2 linked regions of the Homo sapiens genome follow. The protein of the gene in region 1 purifies or fractionates together with the protein of each later gene. This does not show direct contact. Each region holds a gene or a part of one and is shown on either strand. Other genes may lie near its edges.

Region 1 (3,820 bases):
TTTGGGAGTTAGGGTTCAACATGTGAATTTTGGGAACACAGTTTATTCTATAGCATTAGCCTTTTGAAAACACACCACAGCCCTGATTTGTCCTACAGGCTGCAGTTTTCCCACCCCGATTTAGAGTGTCTTTCTTACCTCATTTCGAATCTGTGATTTTTGTAGAGAGGAAGTGGGTGAGGATCTCCTAGTGGAGTTCCTGTCATTTCCAGTCTAGAAATCAGGACCACTGCTGTGACTGGCAAGAGGTGAGATGCCCAGAAAAGGAATGGTACAGACCACATACATGGAGCTGTCCCAGTCCGTTTGGGTTGCTATAATAAGATACCTTAGAGTGAGCAATTTACAAACAACAGAATTGACTGCTCATAGTTCTGGAGGCTGGTAAGTCCAAGATCAATGTGTCAACAGAGTTGGTCTGGTTGGGGCCTGCTGTCTCATAGATGGCACCTCTTACATGTCCTCATATGGTAGAAGGTGAACACAGGCTCCCTCAAGCCTCTTTTATGAGGACATTAATTGCCTTGTAAAGACCCCACCTCTTAACACTATCTCACTGGGTATTAGGTTCCAATGTATGAATTTTACGGGGGGACACCAACATTTAGGCCTTAACAGGTACCTCCGTGAGGGCATGAGGACCTGGGGTCTCTGAGCAGTAACAAGTGCCCTGTTTCAGGCATCTGTGTGCTTCGAGGATGTGGCTATGGCATTCACACAGGAGGAGTGGGAACAGCTGGACCTGGCCCAGAGGACACTGTACCGAGAGGTGACACTGGAGACCTGGGAGCATATTGTCTCCCTGGGTAAGTGGCTGTGCTCATGGAAGGAGGTTCTACCCCTAGGACTCAAAGCTGTACCAAGTTCTGAAGGGTGTTCTGGGATGTGCTGGAAGATACTGGAAGCAGGTCCCTTTCAGGTGCAGTTCCCAGGGGTTGCCCTTCATTCTATCTCTGGGACAGGTTTGTGACTTGTAGTCCTAACAGTGGGGAGTTTCCTCGGGACAGCACTAGGGGCTGAAGCTTGGACCCAGGACATGGTTCTTGGTGTCCAAGCAGAGGGGCAAGTCCTTTTTCCGTCTTTGACCAGGGCTTTTCCTTTCCAAATCTGATGTGATCTCTCAGCTGGAGCAAGAAGAGGACCTGTGCAGGGCAGAGCAGGAGGCCCCCCGAGGTAAGAGCAGACCTTGTGGTGAGCAGCTCAACGTTTAACAAGCTTGGACAGAGAGCTCTCCGCAGGGCCCCAGGGGCCAAGGAGGGAGCCTTGTTTGGAGGAAGCCTCCTTGGGTGCTCTTTGCAGCAGTTCACCCATTCAAAGGAGTTCACCAATTCGAAGTATGCAGTTCATGGCTTCCAGTGTCTTCCCTGAGTGTGGAACCCTCACCACAATCAGTTCTAGAACATGTTCATCATCCCAACCATTTAGGCCTCTTTACTTGATTTGTTTTTTTTTAATTAATGTATGTATTTATTTATTTATTTTGAGATAGGGTTTTACTCTGTTGCCCAGGCTGAAGTGCAGTGGCGCTGTCTTGGCTCACTATAGCCCCCATCTCCCTGGCTCAAGCAATTCTCATGCGTCAGCCTCCCTAGTAGCTTGGACTACAGGTGCACACTGCCACACCTGGCTAATTCTTTTGTTTTTGTTTTTGTTTTTTAAGACGGAGTTTCGCTCTTGTTGCCCAGACTGGAGTGCAATGGCACAATCTCGGCTCACCACAACCTCCACCTCCCAGGTTCAAGTGATTCTCCTGCCTCAGCCTCCCAAGTAGCTGGGATTACAGGCATGTCCACCATGCCCGGCTAATTTTTTGTATTTTTAGTGGAGACAGAGTTTCACCGTGTTAGCCAGGATGGTCTTGATCTCCTGACCTCATGATCCGCCCGCCTCAGCCTCCCAAAGTGCTGAGATTACAGGTGTGAGCCATCACGCCTGGCCCTAATTTTGTATTTTTATTAGAGGTGGGGTTTCTCCATGTTGGTCAGGCTGGTCTCGAACTCCCGACCTCAGGTGATCCACCTGCCTCAGCCTCCCAAAGTGCCGGGATTACAGGTATGAGCCACTGCACCTGGCCATTAATTTTTGTATTTTTAATGGAGATAGGGTTTCATCATGTTGCCCAGGCTAATAGACTTTATTTTTTAGAGCAGTTTTAGGTTTATAGGTAAGTTGACGAGAAAGTGCAGAGTTCCCACCCATGTCTGCTGTCCTACAGACACATGCAGTGTCTCCTGCTGTTAACAACTTGGATTTGTATTGTACATCTGTTACAATCGGCAAACCTATCTTGAGGCATCCTTTTTTTTTTTCCCAGACAGAGTCTCACTCTGTCACCAGGCTGGCGTACAGTGGTGTGATCTCAGCTCACTGCAACCTCCGCCCCCCAGGTTCAAGTGATTTTCCTGCCTCAACCTCCCAACTAACTGGGACTACAGGCACGCACCACCACGCCCAGCTAATTTTTGTATTTTTAGTAGAGTCAGAGTTTCACCATGTTGGCCAGGATGGTCTCGATCTCCTGACCTCATGATGCGCCCCCCTCAGCCTCCCAAAGTGCTGGGATTACAGGCGTGAGCCACTACCCCTTGCCCTTGAGGCATCATTATCACCCAAAGTCCATAGTTTATGATAGGGTTCATGCTTTTTTTTTTCTTTTTTTTTTTTTTTTTTTGAGACAGTGATGCAGTCATAGCTTAAGCCTTCTGGGCTTAAGTGATCCTCCCACCTCTCTGCACCCCAGCCTCAGGTGCCACAGCATGCACCACCATGCCTGGCTAATGTAAAAATTTTTTGTAGAGATGGAGTGTCACTGTGTTGCCCAGGCTTGTCTTGAACTCCTGGGCTCAAGTGATCCTCCCACCTCAGCCTCCCAAAGTGCTGGGATTACATGTATGAGCCACTGCACCTGGCCAGGCTTCACTCCTGATGTTGTATATTCTGTGCATTTGGACAAATGTACAATGTCATGTATCCACCATTATAGTATCAGACAGAGTAGTTCCACTACCCTAAATATTCTCTGTGCTCTACCCATTCATCCCTCCCTCATCCCCAGCCCCTGGTGTTACTGGTGGAGGATGTGCAGGTTCTTGGCATTTTGAACAAAGAATTGGACAAAATGCATAAAACAATGAAAGAATGAAGCAAAAAAAGCATAGATTTATCAAAATGAAAGTACACTCCACACAATGGGAGTGGTCTGGAGCAAGCAGCTCAAGAGCACTGGTTACAGAATTTTCTGGGGTTTAAATCCCGAGAGGTTTCCCATTGGTTACTTGGTTTATATCCTCTGTAAATGAAGTAGTGGCCCATAACTAGTCTGATTGGTTGGGGAAGGTGACCAACAGAGGCTGAAGTGAAGTTACAAAGTTACACCTCTATGCAGATGAAAACTAGGCCAGTGACCAGTCTCATTGGTTGCAGGAAGAGGTACTTTCCATTTTTCATCTGCGACACAGAAGGCGGGGGTTGCCTCTGATCCTTTTGTTATTTGGGGCATGGAAAGTTTGGGTTTTCCTTTTGATTCAGTTCCAGGAAGTCAGCATTAATCACCCTTAGGTTTCTTGCCTCCATACCCTGTTCTCATACCTCATTTCCCCCCGAAAGACATGATCCTCATAAATCTTTATGGGAGGTAAAGGGATTGATAGTCTTTCTTCTGTAACTGCTTTATGCTGACCTGAGGCACAGTCCCTACGTACTGGGGAATCACAGGACTCTCTCCCCGCCCTGTCTAGTGGAGACAGGATAGCTTCTTGATGGCCAGGGGTGGTGTCTCCACCTGGAACTGGCTGGAAACATTGTCACATGATCATCTGAA
Region 2 (3,820 bases), on another chromosome or scaffold:
TTGGGCCCAAGCTATCCTCCCACCTCAGTCTCTTGAGTAGCAGGGACTACAGGCATGAACCACCACACCTGGCTAATTTTTATTTATTCATTTTTTGTACAGATGGGATCTCACTATGCTGCCCAAGTTGGTCTTAAATGCCTGACCTCAAGCGATACTCCCACTTTGGCCTCCCAAAGAACCAGAAATTCTTTCTGTAACTTTCATCCACAGATAGCCTTGCCTCTTGATCATCAAAACATAATATAAGGTCTTAGTCTTCCCTAGTTTTACCATCCCCATTCCTTTCACCCTTCATCTTACATTGAGGTTACCATGTTTTAACTCTTGCATTCACCCTTCTCAGGGAGTATTCATTCCAGGCACTCAGTCCAAAGTTGTACCTGTCTGTCAGCAGCCAGGATGGTCTGATACTTTCTATTTGACAGAAAACGATTTGGGGTACAAACAAGGGCTGAGTAGCAGCAAGACCTAGGGTGGGGGCAGGATAGGTGGGAGGTAGCGAACTGAAGTGAGCCTTGTTTACTCATAGGCTACGGCTTTCTCCTCATCCCCAGTCCTGACACCTGTGAATTCCTCTTCTGGCCAAGCCCTAGAAATCTCCCCTCTCCGTGCACCCTCACTTTATTCAACTCTGGCCCCATTCTCTTCCTCATGCTGCAAGAAGCTCCCAGCTACTCAACACAACAAGCCCACGCAGCGGCCTATGCCGTGGCCGTAGGTTGTATCCACTTCATGTTTCCTTGTTGGGCTTCTGTTTGAGCACAGACATGTTTCCACGCAGCATTTCTGTGGCGTTAAGTGCTCCCACCAACTACATTCCTGTGCCTCCCATCTTTTACTTCTGGTAACAATACTTTTGGTAAGGAAGTGTGTTGTGGAAGTTGACTTTTATTAAATTACTTTAATTATTTCAATAAGAATGCCTCACTACTAAATTACTTTAATATTTCAATAAGAATGTTTAGCTTATTTTTATTCTTACCATTGCTCTAACTAGAGAGTTACATTACTTTTATATGGTAAAGATAGAGGAAGGGGGAAAATATGAAACAATGGCTATTCTGTTTTTTGGATTCTTATTTAAAGTTGGGTTCTCTCAGATATCTATGCCTGAAGTCCTATTTACTGAACCCAACCTACTCTGTATAAGATACACTATTTTTCTAGGAGCAGCCTTGGAGGAAGAAAGGAAATATCTGGTAGATACAGTACAAGTTGGTTCTGTTCCTATACCTAGTCTTGCAACTTTTATTTTTTTATTTTTTATTTTTTTTTTTTGAGACAGAGTCTCACTGTCACCCAGGCTGGAGTGCAGTGGCGTAATCATAGCTCACTGCAGCCTCGACCTCCTGGGCTCAAGCGATCCTCCTGCCTCAGCCTTGCAGAGTGCTGGGATTACAGGTGTGAGCCACTGTACCCAGCCAGCTTTTATCTTTTTTAGTGATTAAAAAAAAATAGTAGAACAGCAGTCCTGTTGAGGAATAGAATCTTTGAATCTTTGACCTTGGTGTTACGGACAAATACACTGAACCAGAGCTTTCCTCATTTTTTTGAAGATAAGACTCAGGGGAAAAAAATTGCAGAACAGTGATTCCAAGTGGTGTTCTTTTTATACACATGATGACAAAGCACATATTATTAATTTATTCACTGATCTATGTTAAAGAGGCTGAAATAATACTAGCATAAATATCAAGGCAGCAAGTTTGGCAAAATAATTTGCTGAATATTGAAAGCTCTTTTCAAAAAGTATCTTTTTTGTCACATCCAGGTCATGATAAAACGTGTAAGTTTTTCTTCCTATATTGTATAAAAAGTAAACTGGCAACCTTACTTTTTGAAGAAGGGGGAAAGGAAAGTATGAATTAGGGACAGGAAAAGAGGAAGGCTCTAAATTCAGAAATATAGGCCCATATAAAACCACAAGATAGAAACATCCAGAGAAAGTTCAAAGACCTTTTTTCTAGTAAAGTTAATCCTTTCATAAAGTAGGTTTTTATTTTTACTTTTAGAAATGAGATCTCCCTATGTTGCCCCAGCTGAGCTCAAGTGATCCTCCAACCTCTGCTTCCCAAAATGCTGGGATTGCAGGTGTGAGCCACTGTGCCCGGCCAAAGTAGATTTAATTTTTTTTAAAAAATCATCACTTGCAGGTATTGGATAATCAGGTTAAGTTTTCTTGGGTTAGACGTGCAATTGACTGTGCAGCAGATAATGTCTGAAAGAAGACCGTGGTCACTGGGGAAGGAGGGGATGCTCCAGCACCCTACCAAAGTGAGTGCTATCATTGAATAAATAGATCTTAGCAATGCTAATGTCCAAAAAGTGCAAAAAAAAAAAAAGAAAAGTATTGTGTTTTAGCAATTTAAATACATTATGAAAAAAGCTTAAAAGAAATTATAATTACTTACTAATAAGATCTTTCAGAAATGACAAAAACCAAAAACGGCAGTTAAACAGAGGAATGAGAAAGAATTAGAAAATAGGCAAAGAGAGGGAAAGGATTCAGGGATCAATAGCACCTTTATTTGTTAATAATTGCTCTACAAAACTAAGAGATATAATATAAAACAATTCTGAAAATGGGGAGAGGAAAGCTATTGAGAGCATACCTGACCATAAAAACTGAAGGAATAGATGGCTAAATATGATATCAAGGGTTATTAAAATAATGAGAAAACCATAATTTCCATTAATTGCATGTATACCATATACTAGGCACTGTGCTCACGTATGCACTTTCACAGCACTGGTATTATTGCCAGTGAGAACAGTGAGGTCAGAGAGACACAGTGCCTTGCCCAAGTAGCTAATAACAGATCTGCTCATAGATCTCTCTAGTAGGGGTCTTTACCCTGAATCATGCTACTTCCCTGTTGAAATATCTCTTATTTGGAAGTGAGATGTATCAATGAAGTCAAATACTATGCAAACTTGATAACTTTGGGGCTATCAGTTTTGTGACATTGAATGGAAAAGATTTGAAATTTTTTATTTATGCATCTGGAAATGCCACAGTCTGAGAAAAAGTGATTTGTTAAAGTTACCGAGAGGTGGAGGGAGAGTTCAAACTCCTATCAATCTAATTCTAAAACCTTGCTTTTTAACATTAGAACTGTAGTGGGGTCATTTTTGTTTTTAATTTGGGGCAAAAGTAACAGTGAAAAGGTAAATGACTTATTTGAGGTCAACATGGATCTGAAAAATCAAGAAGCAAAATAGAAGGTCTGTGAATAGAGAAACTTAAGTCTATTTTTTTGGACTAGAAGATTGAAAACTTTAAAAAGTAAAATAATTCTTTAAGATTTCCTACCTTCTTATGTTTCCACTTTTCATAATTAGGTGATGCTGCTATATATGCTTTCAGCAATTTGGTTAATAGTTAAATGTTTTTGAATTTTAATTTAAGGAAAACTTTAAATTAAAAATTTTTTGACATTCTACTCAAGTAGTGAAATGATTGGATTCAACCACCAAATTATTGATTTTCAACATTTACAGAGTTGTGATGCCTTATTTTACTTTGATTTTTGTGACATTTCTGCTCTAACTTACCCTTCAGTATTGTATGGTAGATACTTAACATTTAAAACAGCTTTGAGAGTTTATAAAACAACAGTTAGAATCCTACAAAACTAAAACTGAGCATTGTTGCGTGGAGCAAAATTGCCTTTTTTGTGTAAAAGCAATTTTTTTTTTTTTTTTTTTTTTTTTTTTTGAGATAGAGCCTTGCTCTGTTGTCCAGGCTGGAGTGCAGTGGTGCGATCTTGGCTCACAGTAACCTCTGCCTCTACGGTTCGAGCAATTCTCCTGCCTC

Evidence for each region.
Region 2: the proteins of ZNF544 (region 1) and MAP3K20 purify together in Homo sapiens (affinity purification with mass spectrometry; 2 studies listed by BioGRID and IntAct, with this or other methods). This does not show direct contact.

What each region holds. Positions count from the first base shown.
Region 1 is NC_000019.10:58,245,622-58,249,441, forward strand, and holds part of ZNF544 (zinc finger protein 544), read left to right. Parts: intron 1-165; exon of another isoform or gene 166-248; intron 249-679; coding exon 680-806; intron 807-1,089; coding exon 1,090-1,173; coding exon of another isoform or gene 1,174-1,211; exon of another isoform or gene 1,212-1,420; intron 1,421-1,660; coding exon of another isoform or gene 1,661-1,806; exon of another isoform or gene 1,807-3,820. UniProt on the Homo sapiens protein: May be involved in transcriptional regulation.
Region 2 is NC_000002.12:173,082,093-173,085,912, forward strand, and holds part of MAP3K20 (mitogen-activated protein kinase kinase kinase 20), read left to right. Parts: intron 1-3,820. UniProt on the Homo sapiens protein: Stress-activated component of a protein kinase signal transduction cascade that promotes programmed cell death in response to various stress, such as ribosomal stress, osmotic shock and ionizing radiation.